7 linked regions of the Homo sapiens genome follow. The protein of the gene in region 5 purifies or fractionates together with the protein of the main gene of each other region. This does not show direct contact. Each region holds a gene or a part of one and is shown on either strand. Other genes may lie near its edges. The genes, in order: DSTYK, MROH1, EXOC6, UCKL1, NPTN, XPO6 and TBCD.

What was found.
Region 1: the proteins of NPTN (region 5) and DSTYK purify together in Homo sapiens (co-immunoprecipitation; 2 studies listed by BioGRID and IntAct, with this or other methods). This does not show direct contact.
Region 2: the proteins of NPTN (region 5) and MROH1 purify together in Homo sapiens (co-immunoprecipitation; 2 studies listed by BioGRID and IntAct, with this or other methods). This does not show direct contact.
Region 3: the proteins of NPTN (region 5) and EXOC6 purify together in Homo sapiens (co-immunoprecipitation; 2 studies listed by BioGRID and IntAct, with this or other methods). This does not show direct contact.
Region 4: the proteins of NPTN (region 5) and UCKL1 purify together in Homo sapiens (co-immunoprecipitation; 2 studies listed by BioGRID and IntAct, with this or other methods). This does not show direct contact.
Region 6: the proteins of NPTN (region 5) and XPO6 purify together in Homo sapiens (co-immunoprecipitation; 2 studies listed by BioGRID and IntAct, with this or other methods). This does not show direct contact.
Region 7: the proteins of NPTN (region 5) and TBCD purify together in Homo sapiens (co-immunoprecipitation; 2 studies listed by BioGRID and IntAct, with this or other methods). This does not show direct contact.

What each region holds. Positions count from the first base shown.
Region 1 is NC_000001.11:205,205,203-205,208,702, forward strand, and holds part of DSTYK (dual serine/threonine and tyrosine protein kinase), read right to left. Parts: intron 1-3,500. UniProt on the Homo sapiens protein: Acts as a positive regulator of ERK phosphorylation downstream of fibroblast growth factor-receptor activation. Involved in the regulation of both caspase-dependent apoptosis and caspase-independent cell death.
Region 2 is NC_000008.11:144,154,516-144,158,015, reverse strand, and holds part of MROH1 (maestro heat-like repeat-containing protein family member 1), read right to left. Parts: intron 1-3,500. UniProt on the Homo sapiens protein: Lysosome fission factor. Recruited to lysosomes by RAB7 (RAB7A or RAB7B) at scission sites and homooligomerizes to mediate the constriction and scission of lysosomal tubules. May sever membranes by inserting amphipathic helices into one bilayer leaflet.
Region 3 is NC_000010.11:92,953,020-92,956,519, reverse strand, and holds part of EXOC6 (exocyst complex component 6), read right to left. Parts: intron 1,891-3,500; coding exon 1,779-1,890; intron 941-1,778; coding exon 806-940; intron 1-805. UniProt on the Homo sapiens protein: Component of the exocyst complex involved in the docking of exocytic vesicles with fusion sites on the plasma membrane.
Region 4 is NC_000020.11:63,939,417-63,942,916, forward strand, and holds the end of UCKL1 (uridine-cytidine kinase-like 1), read right to left. Parts: intron 3,311-3,500; exon of another isoform or gene 3,215-3,310; intron 3,077-3,214; coding exon of another isoform or gene 2,347-3,076; exon of another isoform or gene 1,793-2,346; coding exon 1,694-1,792; coding exon of another isoform or gene 1,628-1,693; coding exon 1,534-1,627; intron 1,441-1,533; coding exon 1,378-1,440; intron 1,301-1,377; coding exon 1,178-1,300; intron 1,070-1,177; coding exon 962-1,069; intron 891-961; coding exon 734-890; intron 640-733; coding exon 560-639; 3' UTR 413-559; downstream 1-412.
Region 5 is NC_000015.10:73,595,390-73,598,889, forward strand, and holds part of NPTN (neuroplastin isoform b precursor), read right to left. Parts: intron 1,981-3,500; coding exon 1,633-1,980; intron 1-1,632. UniProt on the Homo sapiens protein: Probable homophilic and heterophilic cell adhesion molecule involved in long term potentiation at hippocampal excitatory synapses through activation of p38MAPK. May also regulate neurite outgrowth by activating the FGFR1 signaling pathway.
Region 6 is NC_000016.10:28,114,466-28,117,965, forward strand, and holds part of XPO6 (exportin-6), read right to left. Parts: intron 2,998-3,500; coding exon 2,853-2,997; intron 1-2,852. UniProt on the Homo sapiens protein: Mediates the nuclear export of actin and profilin-actin complexes in somatic cells.
Region 7 is NC_000017.11:82,758,565-82,762,064, reverse strand, and holds part of TBCD (tubulin-specific chaperone D), read right to left. Parts: intron 1-3,500.

The sequences.
Region 1 (3,500 bases), on a different chromosome or scaffold from region 5:
CAAACTACCACAGAGTACACCCATCCCAGTCTCAGCACTGCTGTCACTGTGCTCCACCTCACAATCCCAGCTTCTCCCCACCCCTAAGCCCCATAAAGATGACAGCTCTATAAAATGAAGCTCTAAAGAATCTCCTCTTTCCCAACTTTTCATCCCTTCCCCAAATGTCACTCTGCCACTTAAACTTACTTATCATACAAATTTCTAAGATGACCAAGGAAAATGCCTATTTATTTTATTTTATTATTATTATTTTTTTTTGAGACACAGTCTCACTCTATCACCCAAGCTGGAGTGCACTGGCATGATCTCAGCTCACTGCAATCTCTGCCTCCTGGGTTCCAGCGATTCTCCTGCCTCAGCCTCCTGAGCAGCTGGGATTATAGGCCCGCACCGCCATGCCCAGCTAATTTTTTGTATTTTAGTGGAGACGATGTTTCACCATGCTGGCAGGCTAGTCTCGAGCTCCTGACCTCAGGTGATCCACCTGCCTCAGCCTCCCAAAGTGCTGGAATTACATGAGTGAGCCACCGCGCCCAGCCGAAAATGCCTATTTTAAATAAGTACACTAGTGCTTTTCCCCTTCTTTTAAATGCTGGCACATTTAAAAGGTGTGACAAAAAGAAGGTGAAGAATGTTGGAGAAACATAGCTGTAAGCTCACCAAAGGCAAAGAGCTATAAAAAAAACCTGAGAATTATAACTCATATAAAATGCTTATAACCTCCCTTAGCATTCTGCTTTTTTATGTACGTGTTTTATGTGTTGCACACGTATATGGTTTAGATTAGATTATACCTTTCTAGAGGACCAAGTTCAGGTCTTCTTAGACCTTTTTAATCCATCATCAAACATAAATGATTATTGATGATAATTATAATTATTTTTTCTTTCTTAAAAGTATAGAAGGGAAAGACTGATCTTCACTGGCCTAAGGCCAAGGCCAATGTCTTTATTTGACTCTTTATCCCCCATACGCAGCACATTGCTCAGTACATACCAGGCACTCAGGTATTTATTGAATAATAGCTAATACTTACATAGCACCTTAGCAGGCACTGGTTTTTTTTGGTTTTTTTTTTAGTTTTTTGTTTTTGAGACAGAGTCTCGCTCTGTCGCCCAGGCTAGAGTGCAATGGTGCAATCTCGGCTCACCAAAACCTCCGCCTCCCGGGTTCAAGCGATTCTCCTGCCTCAGCCTCCTGAGTAGCTGGGATTACAGGCATGCACCACCATGCCCGGCTAATTTTGTATTTTTAGTAGACATGGGGTTTCTCCATGTTGGTCAGGCTGGTCTCAACCTCTTGACCTCAGGTGATCCACCCGCCTCAGCCTGCCAAAGTGTTGGGATTACAGGCGTGAGCCACCGCACCTGGCCTGTTCTTTTTTTTTTTTTTTTAAAGACAGAGTCTTGCTTTGTCGCCCAGGCTGGAGCACAGTGGGGCAATCTCGACTCACTGCAACCTCCGCCTCCCAGATTCAAGCGATTCTCCTGCCTCAGCCTCCTGAGTAGCTGGCATACAGGCACCTGCCACCCTGCCCGGCTAATTTTTGTATTTTTAGTAGAGATAGGGTCAGGCTGGTCTCAAACTCCTGACCTCAAGTGATCCGCCCTCCTTGGCCTCCCAAAGTGCTGGGATTACAGGCATGAGCCACCGCTCCCGGCCCAGGTCCTGTTCTAAACATGCACATAGATTCACTCCCAAGAACTCTAGAGATCAGTACTGTTATAATCCCTATTTCCAGATGAGGAAATAAAGGCACAGCACAGTTGTGATTTGTCCAAGATCATTTGGTTAGTAAGAGGTGAAACCAGGATTCAAAGAAGGCACCACAGACCACAGAACTCCAACAACACATATTTAAGTCACTCCAGTATCTTTTTTTTTTTTTTTTGAGACAGAGTCTTGCTGCGACACCCAGGCTGGAGTGCAATGGCTCGATCTCGACTCACTGCAACCTCCGCCTCCTGGGTTCAAGCGATTCTCCTGCCTCAGCCTCCCGAGTAGCTGGGGTTACAGGCACGCGCCATCATGCCTGGCTATTTTTTGTACTTTTAGTAGAGATGGGGTTTCACCACGTTGGCCAGGCTGGTCTCGAACTCCTGACCTTGAGTGATCCACCTGCCTCGGCCTCCCAAAGTGCTGGAATTACAGGCGTGAGCCGCCGCACCCGGCCCACTCCAATTTCTTAAAATTGAGAGGCTTATGACAAATTGCAACAGCTAGGAACTTTACTGGATAATAAAACAAGAAAAATACTTTCCCATGCCGGGCACAGTGGCTCATGCCTGTAATCCCAGCACTTTGGGAGGCCAAGGCAGGCAGATCGCTTGAGGTCAGGAGTTTGAGACCAGCCTGGCCAACACGGTAAAACCCTGTCTCTACTAAAAATACAAAAACAAAATTAGCTGGGCCTGGTGGCAGGCGCCTATAGTCCCAGCTACTCAGGACGCTGAAGCAGGAGAATCACGTGAACATGGGAGGTGAAGGTTGCAGTGAGCCAAGATCACGCCACTGCACTCCAGCCTGGGCAATACAGAGAGACTCTGTCTCAAAAAAAAAAAAAAAAAAAAAAAAAAAAAAAAAAAAAAGAAAAAAAATACTTTTCCCTCTGCTACTCTTAATACTCCACCCTGCCTTTCCTCAGAAGTGCTCAAAGCCTTTATTTATGTATTTATTTATTTATTTTTTGAGACAGAGTTTCGCTCTTCTTGCCCAGGCTGGAGTGCAATGGCGTGATTTCGGCTCACCACAACCTCCACCTCCCACATTCAAGTGATTCTCCTGCCTCAGCCTTCCCCAGCAGCTGGGATTACAGGCATGTGCCACCATGCCCAGCTAATTTTTTTGGATTTTTAATAGAGACGGGGTTTCTCCATGTTGGCCAGGCTGGTCTCCAACTCCCAACCTCAGGTGATCCACCCACCTCAGCCTCCCAAAGTGCTGGGATTACAGGTGTGAGCCACCGCACCCAGCCTTACTTTTTAAATTCTAAAATATCATGTACATTACATATTCTCTACACTGACCCCAGTGAATTCAGAACTATAAAATGTTAGAGGCAAATATTATTTTGGGGTCCTTTACTCTTTTGTGGGTGAAAGTGAGACAATAAAAATTTTTGGTATCATATGGCATTACAAATGGTATATAGACATGAAAATTGTTTTACTATTGTTACCATACTTATACTCCAATCATTTCAAATTTAGAGTTAATCCCTGGTCTTCTTTCAGTTGCTCAAATACCATACTACATCAACCTAGAGGCACAGTTCCATTCTGAAGTGATGCTTAAAACCTACAGGTTTGTTAGGGTAAGAATTGAGTGTTCCTTCAACACCCAAGTTCCTATTAATCAGAGACTAACATTCATAAAAGAAAGTTGAGGACTGGGTGTGGTGGCTGATTACTGTAATTCCAGCACTTTGGGAGGTTGAGTTGGAAGGATCGTTTGAGGCCATGAGTTTGAGACCAGCCTGGGCAACAAAGTGAGACCCC
Region 2 (3,500 bases), on a different chromosome or scaffold from region 5:
ATCTCAAAAAAAAAAAAAAAAAAAAAGAAAGAAATAGATGGCCAGGCGCAGTGGCTCATGCCTGTAATCCCAGCACTTTGGGAGGCCAAGGCAGGTGGATCACTCAAGCTCAGGAGTTCAAGACCACCTGGGCAACATGGCAAAACCCCATCTCTACCAAAAGTACAAAAATCAGCTGGGCATGGTGGCACCCACCTGTAGTCCCAGCTACTCAGGAGGCTGAGGTGGAAGGACCACGTGAGCCTGGGAAACAGAGGTAGCAGTGAGCCAAGACTGCACCACTGCACTCCAGCCTGGGTGACAAAGCAACCCCTTCTCAAAAAAAAAAAAAAAAAAAAGAAAGAAAGAAAGAAAAAGAAATAGGCAAATCCCTTAAAAGACACAAGCTACAAGCTATCAAACCTCACTCACAAAGAGATAACCTAAATAGTCCCATATCTAAAAAGAAATCGAACTCATAGTAAAAAACCTTCCCATAAAACCTAGATGGTTTCCCTGGGGAATTCTACCAAACATGGAAGGAAGAAATAATACCAACTATACACAAATTCTTCCTGAAAAAATTAAAAAGAAAAGACTACTTCCCAACTAATTTTCTGAGCATTACTCTCATAACAAAACCAAAGACCTTGTAAGAAAGCTATACAGACTCACGCCTGTAATCCCAGCACTTTGGGAGGCCAAGGCGGGTGGATAACTTGAGGTCAGGAGTTTGAGACCAGCCTGGCCAACATGGTGAAGCCCTGTCTATACTAAAAATACAAAAATTAGCTGTACATGGTGGCTCAAGCCAGCACTTTGGGAGGCTGAGGCAGGCGGATCATAAGGTCAGGAGTTCGAGACCAGCCTGACCAACATGGTGAAACCCCTTCTCTACTAAAAATACAAAAAAATTAGCTGGACGTGGTGGCGCACGCCTGTAATCCCGGCTACTCAGGAGGCTGAGGCAGTAGAATCCCTTGAATGCGGGAGGCGGAGGTTGCAGTGAGCCGAGATCACGCCACTGCGCTCCAGCCTGGGCAACACAGTGAGACTCTGTCTAAAAATAATAATACTAATACAAAAATTAGCCAGGCGTGGTGGTGTGCGCCTGTAATCCCAGCTACTCAGGAGGCTGAGGCAAGAGAATTGCTTGAACCCAGGAAGCAGAGTTTGCAATGAGCCGAGATAGCACCATTGCACTCAAGCCTGGGGACAGAATGAGACTCTGTCTCAAGAAAAAAAAAAAAAAAAAAGAAATTAAACTACAAAGCAATATTCCTTATGGACACAGATGTGCAAATTCTTTTTTTTTTTTTTTTTTTTTTGAGACAGAGTCTTGCTCTGTCACCCAGGCTGGAGTGCAATGGTGCAATCTCGGCTCACTGCAACCTCTGCCTCCCACATTCAAGCGATTCTTCTGCCTCAGCCTCCTGAGTAGATGGGACTACAGGCACACACCATCACGCCTGGCTAATTTTTGTATTTTTTTAGGAGAGATGGTGTTTCACCATGTTGGCCAGGCTGGTCTCAAACCCCTGAGCTCAGGCAATCCGCCGGCCTCGGCCTCCCAAAGTGCTGGGATTATAGGTGTGAGCCACCGTGCCCAGCTGGTTTTAATATTTTTAAATTCAGCTGATATAATTCACATCACGATCATCTCAATAAATGCAGAAAAAGCATTTGTCACAATCCAACGTCCACTTATGATAAAAATTCTCAAGAAGAGAAGGGAACTACCTTAACTAGGAAGAGAAGGAAACCTGCTCAACTTTTTTTTTTTTTTTTTTTTTTTCTTTGAGACGGAGTTTCACTCTTGTTGCCCAGGCTGGAGTGCAATGGCGCAGTCTCGGCTCACCACAACCTCCACCTCCCGGGTTCAAGTGATTCTCCTGCCTCAGCCTCCAGAGTAGCTGGGATTACAGACATGCGCCCCACGCCCAGCTAATTTTGTATTTTTAGTACAGGCGGAGTTTCTCCATGTTGGTCAGGCTGGTTGCGAACTCCCAACCTCAGGTGATCCACCCGCCTCGGCCTCCCAACATGTTGGGATTACAGGCGTGAGCCACCGCGCCCGGCCTCAACTTGTTACTTAAGAAAAACTGGCCGGGTGCAGTGGCTCAGGCCTGTAATCCCAGCACTCCGGGAGGCTGAGGCAGATGGATCACTTGAGGTCACGAGTTCGAGACCAGTGTGGCCAACATGTTGAAACCCTGTCTCTACTAAAAATACAAAAATTAGCCTGAGTGGTGGTGGGCGCCTGTAGTCCCAGCTACTCAGGAGGCTGAGGCAGGAGAATCACTTGAACCCAGGAAGCAGGGGTTGCAGTGAGCTGAGATCGTGCATTCTGGCCTGGGTGACAAAGCAAGACTCCATCTCAAAAAAAAAAAAAAAAAAAGAAAAACACCTAAGAAAAACCTGTAATTAACATCATACAGTTGGTCCTTGAACAACACAAGTTTCAACTGCATGGGTTCACTTATACACAGTTTTGTGTCAATAAATATATTGGAAAACTTTTTGGAGATTTGTGACACGTTGGAAAAACTTATGGACAAACGTAGTCTAGAGATATCAAAAAAATTTAAGAAAATGTGAAATATGTCATGAATGCATAAAATATATGTAGACACTAGTCTATTTTATCATTTACTACCATGAAATATACACAAATCTGTTGTAAGAAGTTAAAATTTATCAAAATATATATGCACACTTACAGACCCTACATGCTGCCATCTGCAGTCAAGAAAAATCTAAACAAACATAAAGACGCAGTATTGAGAGGCCGGGTGCGGTGGCTCACACCTGTAATCCCAGCACTTTGGGAGGCTGAAGCAGGCGCATTAACTGAGGTCAGGAGTTCGAGACCAGCCTGACCAACATGGAGGAACCCTGTGTCTACTAAAAATACAAAATTAGGCCGGGCGTGGTGGCTCATGCCTGTAATCCCAGCACTTTAGGACGCCGAGGTGGGTGGATCACGAGGTCAGGAGTTCAAGACCAGCCTGGCTAGCATGGTGAAACCCCATCTCTGCTAAAAATACAAAAATTAGCCAGGCATGGTGGCGGGTGCCTGCAATCCCAGCTACTCGGGAGGCTGAGGCAGAGAATTGCTTGAACCCAGGAGGCAGAGGTTGCAGTGAGCTGAGATTGCACCACTGCGCTCCAGCCTGGGCCACAGAGCAAGCCATCTTAAAAAAAAGTAGCTGGGCGTGGTAGCGCATGCCTGTAATCCCAGCTACTTGGGAGGCTGAGGCAGAATTGCTTGAACCCAGGAGGCGGAGGTTGCAGTAAGCTGAGATCATGCCATTGTACACCAGCCTGGGTGACAAGAGTGAAACTCTGTCTCAAAAAAAAAAAAAAAAAAAGATGCAGTATTGAATCACAGCTACACAGAATTAAGTGTAGCACATACTGAACTACTGTGATAATTCCAAAGCACGTCTCATTGCTACTGCAGTGAGCTCAGGCAGTGAGTGTATCTGCTTAACACACCGTGGGACGCCATCACCCCCACA
Region 3 (3,500 bases), on a different chromosome or scaffold from region 5:
TTTAAAACACAAGTACATTCATTTTTTACAATGCAAGTTACTACAATAAAATCTTGGGGGTGATTGATAATATAACAAAAGTAGTTAAAGAGAATTCTTTTTAATAGGAAACTTTTAGAAAGAGCTGTAAGGTTAAATTAGCAAGCCCATTTTACAGATAAGTGATCAGTACATGGTTTATCATTAGTTTAATAAAATATTCAATTCAAGGGGATTTATACACACTAGACTAAGCCAGTGTCTCATCTATGACTCCAAATAATAAAATACCTTATGAAATTGTTTAATCTTACATTCTACCTAAAACAACCATTAATTAATCCTCAGTATATTCTGTATATTATTCAAACAGAAATCTTTCCACCCGCAAAAGAGGTAGGACTTCAATGACATGTAATAATATTTATTTTTCTTCAGATCAGAACCAATCAAGGATGGAAAACAAATCTATCCTTTTTTAATTTGTCTTACATTTTAAATTTTCAAAAATAAACACTCATATAGAATTAATTTTTAAACTGTGAAATATTAATTCAGTTAGACCTAGTCAGCACTACTATAAATCATCAAAACATGAACAAAGCATAATACACTGTAGAAAATAAGTATACTTTTCTCCATGTTAATAAGATGTTTACAGTGCCAAAAAGAAACTGACATTTACTTGCTCATTGTTGACAATGAATACCTCTATTCTTAATTTTTAGGAATATAGTAGATCTTGCATATATAAGAACGGTCTTTAATTTCTTAACGTCTGCTTACAGTGACTGAAATGAAAACTTTTGGTCAAATTTTTACATACCTTGAAAGTAGAAAGTCCATAAAGTCTTGTAGTATGAACAGTTTCTTGGGAAATATTTGTAATGTTAGTTATAAAGTCCTCAAGATATTTACAAGCTTGCTCCAGGTGTGTTGTGTTTATGATGATTTGTACCAGCTAGAAAACACAAGATATATCTAGTAAAATACAGGTTACATGTATGTAAAATCACCTAATTTTTAAAAATGGGATTATTACTTCCAGCAACTGTACCATTTCTACATAATTGCAGCATTATAGGATACAACTATCTGATTTTAAAAGCCTGTTGCAAATACTGCGTATGAATTTATATATATATATATATACACACACACACACACACACCAAGAGTCTAAATACCAGTTATTTTAAAATAACTTTTCATAGTATGTTTCAAATCTTAAACATTTAGCAAGTAAAAAATTAGGATTGTGACTTTTCCTGTAGTCTGGCAATCAGAAATCTAAATAGATATTCTAACATCTTTATCTACTATTCCCCATATGAACCCTTTTCCCTCATTTTTTTATTTTTTCTTCCAGAGACAGGGTCTTGCTGTCACCCAGGCTGTGTAGTGCAGTGGTATGATTGTAACTCACTGCAGCCTCAACCTCCTGGGCTCAAGTCCAGAGTAGCTAGGAATATAGTTGCACACTACCACGCCTGGCTAATAGTCTTCATTTTTTGTAGAAACAGGGTCTCACTATATTGCCCAGGCTGGTCTCAAACTCCTGACCTCAAACAATCCTCCTGCCTTGGCCTCCCAAAGCTCTCGGATTAGAGGTATGAGCCACTGTGCCTGGGATCCTCACATTTCTGGAATTTACACTGGTGTTTTTATTTTGAAAACAAATCTGCTTATATTAATACATTTAAAACAGGAAGCTAGTTTTACAGAATGACGTTCAGCAATAATTTAAAATAATTGTTTCATACAATGAAACATTTCACTATATGTGTCTTTTTAACCTACCTCTGTCAAACCTATATGAGGTTTTCTAATAAGGTTCAGTAAACAGCTACTCAAAGTTCTGGTCAGCAGCAGATTTGTTGATTTTCTAAGCATATCGTCTATTTCTGTTGAGCTAAAAACAAAGATTGATATTATTAAACTTAATAAATAATGAATGTGGTTAGTTAACATCCTAAATAATTTAACACAGTTTACTAAAATAATTTTCCCCATCATTATTTTATATCTTTAAATAAACTACAAAGACCCATATTTATTAAATCACAAACTTCAATTTAACTTTGCAAAAGGGACATTTTCCATAAAGTAGAATATTCATATATGGCATAATTTAAATTTATCCAATTAACAACCACAGAAAAATCATAGAGGACTTGGTATAAGGAAACAAAATTATTCCTAAATTCCGACTCCATCATGGGATAGTAACTTTGTTGTTTTATTATTTTTATTATTGTTTTTGAGCCAGGGTCTCACTTTGTCACCCAGGCTGGAGTACAGTGGTGCAATTATAGCTCACTGTAGCCCCAAAGTCCTGGACCCAAGCAATTCTCACACTTCAACATTCTGAGTAGCTGGGACTACAGATGCATGCCACCATGCCCAGCTAGTTTCAAATATTTTATAGAAACAGGGTTGCACTATGTTGCCCAGGCTGGTCTCAAACTCCTGGACTCAAGTAATTCTCCCACCTTGGCCTCCCAAAGTGCTGGGATTACAGACGTCAGGCACCGCGCCCAGCCCCAAAAGACAGTCACTTTGAAAGAAACTTCATACACAACTATAGCTAAAAATTATTTTTAAAATACAAACTGATATGAGCTCTTTCTAGATATAATAAACAAATTTAATTTTTAATATAACTAAGTTATCCATTTTCATTGATTTTTTAAGTCTTCAAAGAAATAAATTACCTTAAACTAATTTTAATATGATGTTTCTTAACATCCTAAGTATTACTAAGCTAGCACTAAAAAACAAATTCTCTTCTCCTAACCATTCGGTCTTCAATTTAAGTAAATAATGATTTCTTGGATACAGCCTCATTATCACAACAGTTAAACTGTCTGTAGACCATGGATTATCCATCTCGGCACTATTGACATTTTAGGGTGGATAATTCTTTGTCGTGGAGACTGTCCTGCACATTTGGATGTTTGGCCTCTATCCACTAGTTTCAAGTAGCACCTCTCCCCTGAACTGTAACAACCAAAGATGTTTCTAGACATTGCCAAATTTGTGGGGAGGAGGTGGTGGCAGGAGAACCAAAATTATCCCCAGTTGAGAACTACTGCCTTAGATACAGGCTAACATTTTTGCATCCTTTTACTTTTTATTAAAATACTACTTTTAAAAATCTGTGGGCCAGGCGCAGTGGATTGTGCCTGTAATCTCAGCACTTTGGGAGGCTGAGGTGGGTGGATTGCTTGAGGCCAAGAGTTCAAAACCAGCCTGACCAACATGGCACAACCTCATCTCCACTAAAAATACAAAAATTGGCAAAGAGCAGTGGCGCGAACCTGTGGTTCCAGCTACTTGGGAGGCTGAGGTGGAAGGATCACTTGAGCCCAGGAGATCGAGGCTGCAGTGAGCCATAATTGTGCCACTTCATTCCAGCCTGGGCAACAGAGTGAGTTCCTGTCTCAAAACAAAATAAAAACAAAAGCAAAAACAAAAACAAACACAAAGAACTACCATTCAACCCAGCAGTCCCATTATTGG
Region 4 (3,500 bases), on a different chromosome or scaffold from region 5:
ACTTCCGCCCTGGTCTGCCTCCTGGCTTTGCTGCCTCCAGCGACTTGTCCTGACGGGAAGGACCCTCCCCCCCCCCAACTGTGGGGAGGACCCTGATGGTACAAATTTGTGGGTGGGGGCAAAACAGCCTGCCTCTTGTGAGACCCAGAGCACCAGGGGGCCCTGTCCCCTCCCTAGGTCCAGGCCAGGTGGCCACCAAGCTATGGGTTCTAGGGGCCCCATCTAGCAGAGCTAGGAGCTGCAGGGCCCAGTTCTACCCCTTCCTTCATCTGGCACAAGTGCAAGACTGGGAATGCTTGGTCCTGCAGGGGAGAAGGCAGGGCCCTCAGCTCCCTCCCTCCCTCCCCATGGGAGTCTCCACAAATGCATGCCTCAGCCAGGACACCTCTCCTGTGCTGTAACCAATCACACCTTCATTTTTCTAAAGCTTTATTTATTTTATAAAATGCATAGAATAAATTATACTAGTAACATTTTAAAAATTAACATCTTTGTATTCAGCAGTCCTGGGTCAGGAGGCAGGAGGAGGGTGGTGGGGACGGGATGGCTCACTGGGCAGCTAACCCGTGTAGGCCACTTCCTCCTCGTCACTGCCATCGGGGACCGCGTCTGTCCCAAAGTAGCGGTCGCCAAAGTTCCCTGGAAAAAGGGGGGGGGGGGTCCAGTGTGGTGGGGCCTCCCAGGGCCACCCACCCTGCCCTCATGTGCGGCTGAAGGGCCCGGGCAGCCTCACCAATGCCTGGGATGATGCGGAAAAGGTCATTGACCCGCTTGTCCACCGCCGTGGTGATGATTCTCACTCGCGGAAATGCATAGGCCACTGAGTGCACGCCCATCTCTGCCATGAGCAGCGACAGCAAAAAGATCTTGTCCTCAGGCACGTCGTGGTCCTACCGAGTGTATTGGGCAGGTAAATCCCACCTCTGCCTGAACCTGCCCCGCCTACCCAGGGCTCACTCACCAGGAGCACGCGCACTGCCATCATGGCCGCCGCGCCCGTGGACACGGTGCAGTCCATGAGGATCACGTGGTCATCGCTGATGTCCTTGGGCAGCCTCAGGTAGTGGAGCTGCGGGCAGCAGGGGTCAGGCTGCAGGTGGGGCTCCCTGCGTCCCCTTGCTGTGAGCTCCCTCTGCCCCCTACCCCCGGGCTCATCACCCCGGCTGCCCCCAGGCACCTCGGGCTCCCCGGTAAGCTGGTTGGTCTGGATGAGGATGGTGCCGATGCGCACGTCTTTGCACACAGCGCGCAGCGCGGGCTCCATGGTTTCACCGGCGCGCAGAATGGACACACCGGTGATCTGCGGGGAGGGGAGGCTAAGCGCCCACATCCCGCCCCAGCAGCCTGTCCCGCGCCCAGGTGTGCCCAGGCAGGTACCTGCTTCCCCGCATAGCACTTGCCCGCATAGTCCTGCCCCTGCGGGGTCTGTACGACGCAGTCCTGTGGGGTGCAGGGTGAGGACTCCGGTGAGCGCAGGGAGCTCGCACCGGCTCCAAGACCCACCCTCCACCTCGCGGGCTACGGGCTACGAACCTGAAAGGGCAGGAAGGAGAGCGCGTGCTCGATGAGCAGCCGCATCAGTCTCTTGGAGTAGAAGATGAACTCGTCGCGACTGGTCTCCTTGTCCCTGTGGGGCCAACAGTTGAGCGGGAGCACGCGCCCGGGGCCGCCCCGTCCCCAGGTGGGCCCTCACCTGATGATGGTGTGCATGCCCCGTACCTGCGGCGTGCTCTTCAGGACGCTCAGCGTCCGGGGCAGCGGGTGGCACTGGTGTGCCGAGGCCAGCGCAGCCCTGGGGACAAACCGATGGGGAACACTCAAGAAGGGGGTCTTTTCCCAGAGCCCTCCCTCCCCACAGGACGGCTGTGCGTCACTGTGAGGGGAACACACGGGCCAGGCACAGCACGAGGTGCAGAGCGGGCCTGACTTCTGCCTGGGGCTGAGCTGGGGGGAGACGTCGCCCTACCTGAGCTGTCAGGCAAAGGCGAAAGATGGCGGCGAACAACGGGGCAAGCTCACCATCAGGCAGAAAGCTAGCGGGGTAGGCTGTGAGGGCCCCTCCCAGTGCGGGACCCCTCCTGCGCTAAGAGGAAGCAGAAGTGGGCCGGGCACAGGGCGGGCTCACACGTGCTGATAGGTGTCATACCCCAGAATGGGTAGCTTGTCCCCAGCCTCTCCCCGGGGGAACTAAAGCTTTGTGGGGTCAGGCCCCGCCCTGGCTCCTCCCCGAGGTGGTGCGCGGCCCCTCAAGAGAGGGGGGTGGGGGGCAAAGCTGGCTCAGTGTCTCTTGGCTGTCCCGTCCCGCCCCGCTGCCCAAGCCTGGGGATGGCCGGGGCAGCAGCAGGTCTAGGAGCGGGCAGGAAAAGGGCGGGGTGGAGGCAAGAAAGAGGTGGGACAGGGAGGAGGCAAAGCCGGAAAGGGGCATGACAGGGGCAGGGAATGGGGCGGGGCAGGAAAGGGGGTGATGCAGGGGCAGGAAGAGGAAAGCGACAGGCCACAGAATTGGGTGTGGCAGGGGAAGGAAAGAGGCAGGGCACGGAATTGGGTGTGGCAGGGCAGAAAAGAGGCGTGACAGCGGCAGGGAAAGGGGCGGGGCCGGGAATGGGGTGTGGCAGGGCAGAAAAGAGGCGTGACAGCGGCAGGGAAAGGGGCGGGGCCGGGAATGGGGTGTGGCAGGGCAGAAAAGAGGCGTGACAGCGGCAGGGAAAGGGGCGGGGCCGGGAATGGGGTGTGGCAGGGCAGAAAAGAGGCGTGACAGCGGCAGGGAAAGGGGCGGGGCCGGGAATGGGGTGTGGCAGGGCAGAAAAGAGGCGTGACAGCGGCAGGGAAAGGGGCGGGGCCGGGAATGGGGTGTGGCAGGGCAGAAAAGAGGCGTGACAGCGGCAGGGAAAGGGGCGGGGCCGGAAATGGGGTGTGGCAGGGCAGAAAAGAGGCGTGACAGCGGCAGGGAAAGGGGCGGGGCAGGAGCAGGAAAGAGGGCCTAGCGGGAGCAGCGGGGCAAGGGGCTACGGGAAGGCGGGTCACACAGCAGCACCACGGAGCACACTGCTCACATATCCCAACGTAGCTTCCTCTGCTTGCCAGGTGAAGAGCATGTTCAGGGAGGGAACAAGGCAGGAAACGGGGGTTTACAGAGAGAAGGAAGAGAACAAAGAGAAGGCTGCTTAGTTGGGGAGCAGGGCGTTCCCCGCAGGCCTGAGGAGGAGTGTGGGCGGTCAGGCCCCCAGCCCTGCCTGACCCTCCCTCCTGCCCCCGACCAAGGCTTCCTGGGGCTGAAGGAAGTGAGTGCAGCCACAGGCCAACACTTCCTTGGCTGACCAGACGACGGAAAATGTGTCTGGCTGCGTTCAGGTGTTTTTCCAAGTTTGAAACCCTGGAAAGTTTTTCCTCTCAGAACAAAAGCTTCAGGAGGAACCTGACGGGACAAGACCTGCGGGTTCCTAGGCCGAGGAGAGGGCCAAGCGGAGACTCATGCAGGCACCGGAAGCTGGACGGCTGGT
Region 5 (3,500 bases):
AAGGTTTTCTTTTCCTCTTTCCAGAAGCAGGTTCTTTGATTCAACAGTGCCAACTGCAGCAGCCTCTCCTACCACTGCCCTACAAAGGACTCTTTTTTTACCCATAGGATCTTCAAGTGGCTACAAAGAACAGACACTAATTTGCTATTTTCCATCTAAGTATATAGACTCAAGGCCCATGTCTTACTACTTTATGTTATTACCAAATTCCTCATCAAAGTAAGATTTTACTATTCTTACTTTCTCTAGATCAATCAGCTCTTTAAGCTGGAACTGGCTATAGATCTCTCATTGTGTCCTCAAAGAGAAGGTGAAAAACCCAGAGGATCTTTCCAAAAGTGAATGTCCCCTCAATTATAACCAGGTTTGATGTGGGGCCAGAACTCTTCTTGGCCAGGAACGTTGGTTCTGTGGTGGCTTCTCCCTCTCTCTGCTTCTCAACATAAGGTAGCAAGTCACTTTCAAGAAAGAGAGAGAAGTGGCCACAAAAGTCCCGGTGTCATATGTCTCACGCATACCTGCTACAAGGAGAGGATTCTGAGCCAGCTGGTCAGCTCACCCCATCACTATGAGAAACCAGGTTGGAAGTTAGTTTCCTCTTTTTTCAAGACACAAAGAAAAGGCCAGTGTGAGTGGTCCCCACACTATGTCTGGAGTTCCCATGCTCTGGGATAAGGTACACTGTGCCAACAGCTACTCATCAGAGTCAAACCGTGAACAGGAATCAACTGCAACTCTGACTTCCAAACAGTGTGATGGGCTAAAAAAATAATAATTTGCAGCTTAGTGTCACCTGGCTCCTAACAGCAAAACATAAGAAGGAAGTCCCAGGCTGCTGCTTTTAAAGAGGAGACTAATTAGCAGGCCCAGTGAGGAGTACACTGCTGCAGTAGAGGGCTGTTATCAGAGAAGCACATGCCACGGTTTTAGAAAAGAAAAAGAGCTGGAACTATGAAAATATCCAAGCTTACATGCCACCCAACAACCAAAACACACCACCACACTGCACCCATGGCAACATTCCCATCACAACAAGATGACACCAAGTCACAGTTAAAGGAAGAGGCTGGGCAGACACAAACTTAAAACCATAGAGGTGAAGGCAGCTACTTAGAGAGCTTCAAACAGAAGAACAGAAGAAATAAAAAGTAGTTAGACTGGGGAGAGAAACAAAAATAGAAAGGCACCAGAGAAGAAATCAGCAAAAGTATAGCAGGAAACCTACTACAAAATCAAAGGGGAGGGAAAACCATTTCAACACTACCCTCCTTGGACTGCCTGGTTTTATGAGTTTTAATTTAAGCTTCCCAGTTCTCCCTCCCCAACTCTTCCCAACACAGATGATTTTGGACAGTCACGGATTTCCTCAAGTTCTTTGTTCCTGAGAAGAAAGACACAGAGAAGGGTTGGGGGATAAGGGAGGCAGAGAGAACGGCAAAGAAAAGAAGAAAAAAAGTTGCCACAGATGTTTTCATACACTACAACCAGAAGGGTCATGGGATTGAAAAAAAAACGAAGACAAGGGGTGGGGTGAGTGATCATACTGGGGAAGAGGGAAAGGATGCAGAAGGGAAGGGTCATTGGGCCACCTCTAATGACTACAGTACTACTACTGTAGGGTGCTGGACTCACTCTGAAGGACGCTTATGGTGGCCTGGGCTCGAATCCATGTTATGGAGGGGTTTTGCCTCAAGTCATTCCTCTTGGGGTCGTTGCTGGCCCTGCACTCGTAAGTCCCAGAGTCCTCCAAGGTGAGCCGGGTTATTCTCAGCACACTCACGCCGTTTGACCCGTAGGCGGTGTTTACGGTGACACGGCGCTTCCGAGCACCGTCCCACAGCTGTCTGAAAGACTCTGCCCGGTTGACTTCTGCGTACCACCACTGGATCTCTGGCGTGGGGCTCCCGACCACGTCACAGTACAGCTCAAAGGCGTCCCCCGTGAGCTTAGTTTCTGACATGGGCGACTTGACAAACCCAGCTAGAGGGAGGGGGAGCAGGAATGCAGTGACAGGCCAATCAGAAAAAAAAAAAAGAATCAACAGGTGTTAATAGTAATTTAAAGAAAAGAAAAGAAAAAAGCAAATGAGTTGCAAAGAACAAAAAAGGATTCATTTTTAAACTATAAAGAGACAGTACAGCAATTCATACAAGCTTTTAGAAGAAGAACCACACCCTGGGAAGCTTATGAAGCAAAGGCAGGCTAATTACAAGCTGGGGCAGCCCAGGTGCTGGCCAGGCAGAAGCAAGCCCACTGGAAAGCATTTTAGCAATGGGCCCAGCTGGTAGGAATGAGAAAGCCTCAGGTCTTGGGAAGAGCCTCTTTCCTTAGAACACAAACCATTTATTACCTTTTTAAACTCAGGCAAGTGATGAAAGATAACCAGAAGAGGCAGTAGTTTTATATGCCAAATCAGGATCTCTCTTTTGGATGGGCAAACGCTTTGTTAGAAATGCAGTGTCTTTTGCAAGCCTCAACAAGAAGTATTAAATGACCTACTGGTGCCTTCTCTTGGGATTCAGAGTTCAAATTTCAACTGAAAGAGTAGCAAATTTCTCTCTCACACAGGATTCTATCCTGGGTTCGATTAGACTTTCTCCACCTCCTATTCTTCCCTGGGCCTATGGCAAACAAACAACCCAGTTGTTTAGCGTTAGGCAGCCTCTTCCTGAATGCAGACCCTCAGGAGAACAAGACAGTCTGTACTTCACACCACAGTGAGATATTAATACTTTGTGGGTCAGCTCAGAAGTGGGACCAACAATACCAGCAACCCAACTCACTGCCAGCTAATGGAGGGACTGTGCCCTCCATAACCCCATAGATCCATTACCTAGAAAAATCTGAAAAGCTATGGTATTTGACAGGCTCCATACAGTTGAATTGCCTGGCTTCTAGAAGCCAGCTCAGAAGAATGAGAAATGTACCCTGATGAATTAAACTAAACACTAGGGTGAAAGCCAGGCCTCAACCAACACTCTTAGGAACTGCCCAGGAACTAAAGTTGATGCCTACCTCTAATTGCCCATAATTTGCTTGAGGTTACACTTCCATAAGACAAGGTGGAAATGGCAGAAAGAGTTAAAAAAAAAAAAAATCCAGGCTTAGTTTAAAAACTTGGAGTTAGGTCCATAGGAAACAAAATCAGAGTGCAAGCATACTCTCTCTTACCCTTCCACCCCACCTAGGGTTCATTCAGCATTTCTACTGATTCAGACAGTATCCGAAGGTATAAAGAGAGACACTAAAAGAGGGCATTCTGATTGGCTTGGAAACGTCCCCTGGGAGGCCTGCTGCATAAGCCAAGCCAGCCCCTGTGCAGTAAGCAGGGAGTGAGGTCAGGATCTGCCAACATCAAATTAAGAACATTCCAGAGGAAAGGATGAAATAAATGGAACTGTTTTCCTACAGTCCAGAAGCCAAGGATGTTAACAGGGCTAGCTGAAAATGGAGGTTACTAAGTGGAAAAATTCCTGTTTACATCCATAGCAGTATTTGCC
Region 6 (3,500 bases), on a different chromosome or scaffold from region 5:
TGCATATGTTTTGTTTACACTATAGTCTATAAAGTGTGCAATAAGCATTATGTCTAAGAAAACAATGTACATATCTTAGTTAAAAAGTAGTTTATTGCTAAAAATGCTAACAATCATCTGAGCCTTCAGAGCGGTAATCTTTTTGCTGGTGAAGGGTCTTCCTTGAAAGTGACTGCTGCTGACTGAACAGGGTGGTGGTTGCTCAAAGTTGGGGTGGCTGTGGCAATTACTTAAAATAAGACAACAATGAAGTTTGCTGCATCGATTGACTTCCTTTCATGAAATATTTCTCTGGAGCATGCGGTGCCGTTTCATAGCATTTTGCCCACAGTAGAACTTCTTTCAAAGTTGGAGTCAGTCCTCTCAAACCCTGCTGCTGCTTCATCAACTGAGTTTATGTGTTATTCTAATCCTCTGTTATTTCAACAATGTTCACAGCATCTTCACCAGTTGATTCCATCTCAAAAACCCACTTTCTTTGGTCATTTACAAGAAGCAAGTCCCCATCTGTTCAAGCTTGATCCTGAGATTGCAGCAATTCCATCCCATCTTCAGACTCCGCCTCTAGTTCTCCTGTTATTTCCACATCTGCAGTTACTTTCTTTACTGAAGTCCTGAACCCCTTAAAGTCATCTATGAGGCTGGGAACCAACTTCTTCCAAACTCCCATTAATGCTGATATTTTGATCTGCTTCCATGAATCATGAATGTCTTTAATGGCATCTAGAATGGTGAATCCTTCCCAGAAGGTTTTCAGTTTATTTGCCCAGATCCACTGGAGGAACCACCATCTATGGCAGCTATAGTCTTATGAAACGTATTTCTGAAACAGTAAGACTTGAAAGCCAAAATTACCCCTTGACCCATGGGCTACAGAACTACAGAATGGATGTTGTGTGAGCAGCCATGGAAACTATGGAAACTAATATCTTTGAACATCTCCATCTGAGTCCTTAGGTAACCAGGTGCATTGCCAATCAGCAGATTTTGAAAGGAATCTTTTTTTCTGAGCAGGTCTCCATAATGAGCTTAAAATATTCAGTAAACCATGATGTAAACAGATGTGCTGTCATTCAGGCTTTGTTGTTCCATTTATAGAGACAGGCAAAGTAGATTCAGCATAATTCCTAAGGGCCCTAGGATTTTCAGAATGATACATGAGCACTGGCTTCAACCTGAAGTCTCCAGTTGCAGTTGCCCCCTGACAAGAGAGTTGGCCTGTCCTCTGAAGCCAGGCACTGACTCCTCCTCTCTGGCTATCCAAGTCCCAGATGGCACCTTCTTCCAGTATAAAGCTGTCTCATCTACACAGAAAATCTGTTGTTTAGTATGGCCACCTTCAGCAGTGATCTAGAACTTCTGGAGAACTTGCTGCAGCTTCTCCATCAGCACTTGCTGCTTCATCCTGGAGATGGCTTCTTTCCTTAAACCTCATGAACCAACCTGTGTTAGCTTCCAACTCTTCTTCTGTAGCTTCCTCACCTCTCTCAGCCTTCACAGAATTGAAGGGCCTGATCTGGATTTGGCTTTGGCTTAAGGGAATGTTGTGGCTAGCTTGGTCTATCCAAACCACTGAAACCTTCCTCATATCAACAACAAGGCTGTTGTACTTTCTCATCACTCATGTGTTCACTGAAGCAGAAATTTTAATCTCCTCCAAGAACTTTTCCTTTGCATTCACAACTTGGCTGTTTGGCTCAAGAGCCTTTGGCCAGGCCGGGCGCGGTGGCTCACGCCCGTAATCCCAGCACTTTGGGAGGCCAAGGCGGGCAGATCATGAGGTCAGGAGATCAAGACCATCCTGGCTAACATGGTGAAACCCCGTCTCTACAAAAAATACAAAAAAATTAGCCAGGCAAGGCGGCAGGCGCCAGTAGTCCCAGCTACTCAAGAGGCTGAGGCAGGAGAATGGCGTGAACCCGGGAGACGGAGCTTGCAGTGAGCCAAGATCACGCCACTGCACTCCAGCCCGGGCGACAGAGCGAGACTCCATCTCAACAACAACAAAAACGACAAAAAAAAAAAAAAAAGAGCCTTTGGCCTATCCTGGCTTTTGACACGCCTTCCTCACTAAGCTTAATCATTTCTAGATTTTTATTTAAAGTAAGAGACATGTGACTCTTCCTTTCACTCGAACACGTAAAGGTCATTGTAGGGTTATTAAATGGCTCAGGGAATAGGGAGGCCTAAAGACAGGAAGATGGGGAAGCCTCCAATCAGTGGAGCAGTCAGAACACACACATTTATCAATCAAGTTTGCAGTCTTTGGTTTGTGGCACTCCAAAATAATTACAATAGTAACATTAAAGATCACTGATCACAAATCGCTGTAAGATATAGTAACAAAAAAGTCTGAAATATTCTAACAATTACCAAAATGTAACACATGGAAGCACCAAATACTGTCAAAAAAATGGTGCTGACAGATTTGCTTGATGCAGGGTTGCCATAAGCCTTCAACTTGTAAAAAACACAGTCTCTGTGAAGCGCAATAAAGGGAAGTGCAATAAAATGAGGTGTGCCTGCACAACCACTGCCCAACTGTGCTTACCGCGCGAAGGAAAATGTTTCAGAGGTATCACAACTTTTTAGTCTGGAAATCTGAATGATATTTTACTTTTTCACAGTGAGCATGTATTCATGTGGAACTCAGATAACTAAAAAAGTAAAGTTGTATCTGAATGCATGTAGGCTACAACTAAAAAGGAACATGAAATAAAACAGATGTATAACAGCAGAAAGATTTATGGGTCTAACTCTGTGTCATATTTAGATTTTCTAGTAAATGGGTATAGGAACAGAAGGAGAGACAGAGAGTTAGATAAAAGGTGTAGGCTTTGCTGTTTCGAGACCTTGGTGCTGATTAGAGGTGTGATTGCATCCATGGTAGTAGAGATGAGTGTCACGAACTGCTGCGTGTTCTGCCGGTGAACTTCACTGCAATACTGTGCTAACCAGTGAGAGTAAGCCTGCAGCGCAGCCAGGGACTGAGCATGCCTGCAGAAAGAAAAGAAGATGTGATTTTAAAGGTTAAGGTGAAAATATATTAGCGTTCAACTCATTTTCATAGGAGGTAAGAATTGCATCCACTGCATTTGCTGTTCTAAGACATGGGCAACAGCATAGAAATCATTTACCGGTTCACGTAGAACCTAAAAACTAAGATATTCATCATCTAAACATTGCCACCGCTGACTAGAGCACAGAAGGCAGTTAGTCAATGTCTACTGAATCTTATTCAATCTTTCTGTGACACATGCTCACCTAAGAGAAAGGTAAATTATAAAAGCAAAATCAAAGAACTTAAGTGATCATGTGTTGACTTCAGAACTAGTACAAATTTAACATTCCTAGCTGCAGACTAAAGCGTAGACAACTACCAGGTGTGACAGCTTTATAAACAGAGCTTTGATGTCAGATTTTGGAGTTTAAGCTTCCACTGCACCACACATTCCACCTGGCTAGGGAATAACTGAGGCGGCAAAGACTATGTTTGGTTT
Region 7 (3,500 bases), on a different chromosome or scaffold from region 5:
ATTATTAATAACAGCCAAAAACCGGAAACAACTCAAATGTCCATCAACAGATAAAAGAAGAAACAACCCCAGCACTTTGGAAGGCTGAGGCGGGCGGATCACGAGGTCAGGAGATCGAGACCATCCTGGTTAACAAGGTGAAACCCCGTCTCTACTAAAAATAAAAAAAAAATTAGCTGGGTGTGTTGGCGGGCACCCGTAGTCCCAGCTACTCGGGAGGCTGAGGCAGGAGAATGGCGTGAACCCGGGTGGCAGAGCTTGCAGTGAGCCGAGATCGCACCACTGCACTCCACCGCACTCCAGCCTGGGCAACAGACCAAGACTCCATCTCAAAAAAAAAAAAGAAGAAACAAATTGTGATTTATCAGCACGAGAGAAAACGTACAAACTACTGATACACACACCAACAATGGTAAGTCCCGGAGATGTTATTTTAACAACGGAAGACAAAAAGAGCACATACTGAATGATTCTAGAACAGGCAAAACTAATGAACAGTACCATTAACCAACAGTGGTTCCCTAGGGCTGGGGTGAGGGGACTGACAGCAAAAGGACATCAAGTAACTCCTTGGGATGACAGAAATGTTCCATATCTTGATAGCGCGGGGTGTATACATTTACCGAAACTCAAACATCTTACTAAAATGGGTGCATTTTATAGTAGGTAAATTTTAAACTCAATAAAATTAAAACTCAATAAAATGTTCTAAGAATAAAAATTTATAATCGTGGATAAAGAGTAGCATTATTTACAAACCATATAATATTTACCTGCTAAGAAAACCCAGAAGAAACAACTGGCCGGGCACGGTGGCTCACGCCTGTAATCCCAGCACTTTGGGAGGCCGAGGCAGGTGGATCACCTGAGGTCAGGAGTTCAAGACAAGCCTGGCCATCATGGTGAAACCCTGTCTCTACTCAGAATACAAAAATTGGCCAGGCTAATTTTACAGGTGGCGCCTGTAATCCCAGCTACTCAGGAGGCTGAGGCAGGAGAATCGCTTGAACCCAGGAGAAGGAGGTTGCAGTGAGCCAAGATCACGCCATTACACTCCAGCCTGGGTGACAGAGCAAGACTTTGTCTCCAAAAAAAAAAAAAGACTGAAAAACTATTGAAGTAAACATTTCATCACACAGTGAACCTCATAGACATGATGCTAAGTGAAAAAAGCCAGTGCCAAAAGACCTCCTACTGCATGATTCCATCACACAAAATGCTGAATACACACAAACCCAGAGCCAGATGAGTGGTTACTGCGGAAGCAGAGAATGGGAAGGAATTGTTGATGGGAGTTGGGTTGCTTCAGATGATGAAAATGCCTAGATTGTGGTAGTGATAGTTACACAACTCTGTAATACACTAATACACTAACACTAAAATGTATATTTAGAAGAGTGAACTCTATAGTATGTAATTATATCCCTATAAAGATGTTAAGAAATGTATGTTTACACATACATATTCCATTACAGTGTTGCCATTTACAAAAACAGTATACAAAACATATCTTCACTAGACATCAGCAATAACTAGTTAGAACACATAACAAATAGTTTCACAAGAGCAATAAAAGACAAAACATACCTAGAAATAAACCTAAAAAAAAGTCTCCAGGAATCATCTAAAGAAAATCACCAACCTTCACTGAGGAACACAAAAGATGTGAATAATTAGAGACATAATACCATGATCTTAGACATGAAAATTAAATCTTAGAAAGACTTCTCCCCTACATGAATTTGTGAATTTAATAGAATTCCAAAGGGTGGAGAGTGATAAAATAATTCCGGAGTTCATCCGCATTAATGAACGGGCTACAAAACCATCAAGAAAATAAGAGGAAAGGATGCCAGGCAAAATATAAACTAACATCAAACAAAATGACCCAGGCCAGGCGTGGTGGCTCACGCCTCTAATTCCAGCACTTTGGGAGGCCAAGGCGGGCAGACTGCTTGAGGTCAGGAGTTCGAGACTATCCTGGCCAACATGATGAAAACCGTTCTCTACTAAAAATACAAAAATTAGCCAGGCGTGGTGGCACATGCTACTCGGGAGGCTGAGGCAGGAGAATCTCTTGAACCTGGGAGGCGGAGGTTGCAGTAAGCCAAGAACACGCCACTGCACTCCAGCCTGGGTGACAGAGCGAGACTCCATCTCAAAAAAAAAAAAAAAACAAACAAACGAAATGACCCAGAAAAAAGAGCATACAGATAGGTCAATGGAACAGGATAAAAAATCTAAAAGCAAAGGCTAATATATTTGAATATTTAATATAGATTTAAAATGGCATTTCAAGTAGGGGAGAGGCCACTAAATCATCCAATAAATGAGGCTTACATAACTGATTAGGAAAAATAAACTTTCTAACCGTACTACCAAAGGCCAAACACAAAGAAACTGATAGTTTGACAAGCTAAATATTTCTAAAACTTCAGTAGAGACTGGGTGCAGTGGCTCACACCTGTCATCCCAGCACTGTGGGAGGCCAAGGCAGGATTGCTTGGGGCCAGAAGTTCGAGACCAGCCTGAGGAACACAGCGTGACCCTGACCCTGCAAAAACAAAATTTTTTTTTTTTTGAGACAGTCTGGCTCTGTAGCCCACGCTGGAGTGCAGTGGCACGATCTCGTTCACTGCTACCTCCGCGTCCTGGGTCCCAGTTCAAGCAATTCTCCTGCCTCGGCCTCTCAAGTAGCTGGGATTACAGGCATGCTTCACCATGCCCAGCTAATTTTTGTATTTTTAGTAGAGACAGGGTTTCACCATGTTGGTCAGGCTGGTCTTGAACTCCTGACCTTGTAATCCACCCGCCTCGGCCTCCCAAAGTGCTAGGATCAGAGGCATGAGCTACTGCGCCTGGCCAAAAAAAAAAGTTTTTTAATTAACTAGGCATGGCAGCTTGTGCCTGTTGTCCCAGCTCTGCAGGAGGCTGAAGTGAGAAGATCACTTAATCCCAGGAGCTCAAGGCTGCAGTGAGCTATGACTGCGCCACTACACTCCAGCCTGGGTGACAGAGCGAGATCCCATCTCTTTAAAAAAACAAACACGAAAAAACTTCAGTAGATAAAATACACCAGACACAATATTAAAAGGCAAAAGCAGGCCGGGCACAATGGCTCACACCTGTAATCCCAGCACTTTGGGAGACCAAGGTGGGCAGATCACGTGGGGGTCAGGAGTTTGAGACCAGCCTGGCCAACATGGTGAAACCCTGTCTCTACTAAAAATGCAAAAAATTAGCCAGGCGTGGTAGCACACGCCTGTAATCCCAGCTACGCTGGAGGCTGAGGCAGGAGAATCGCTTGAACCCTGGAGGCAGAAGTTGCAGTGAGCCAAGATTGGGCCACTATACTCCAGCCTGGGCAACAGAGAGACTACATCTCAAAAAAAAAAAAAAAAAAGAAAAAAAAAAAAGCAAAAGGGTGGAAAAATGTGCAACAAATGACAAAGGACCAGCATCCCACGACTACATTTTCCTTTTTCTAAAAAGGAATTCCA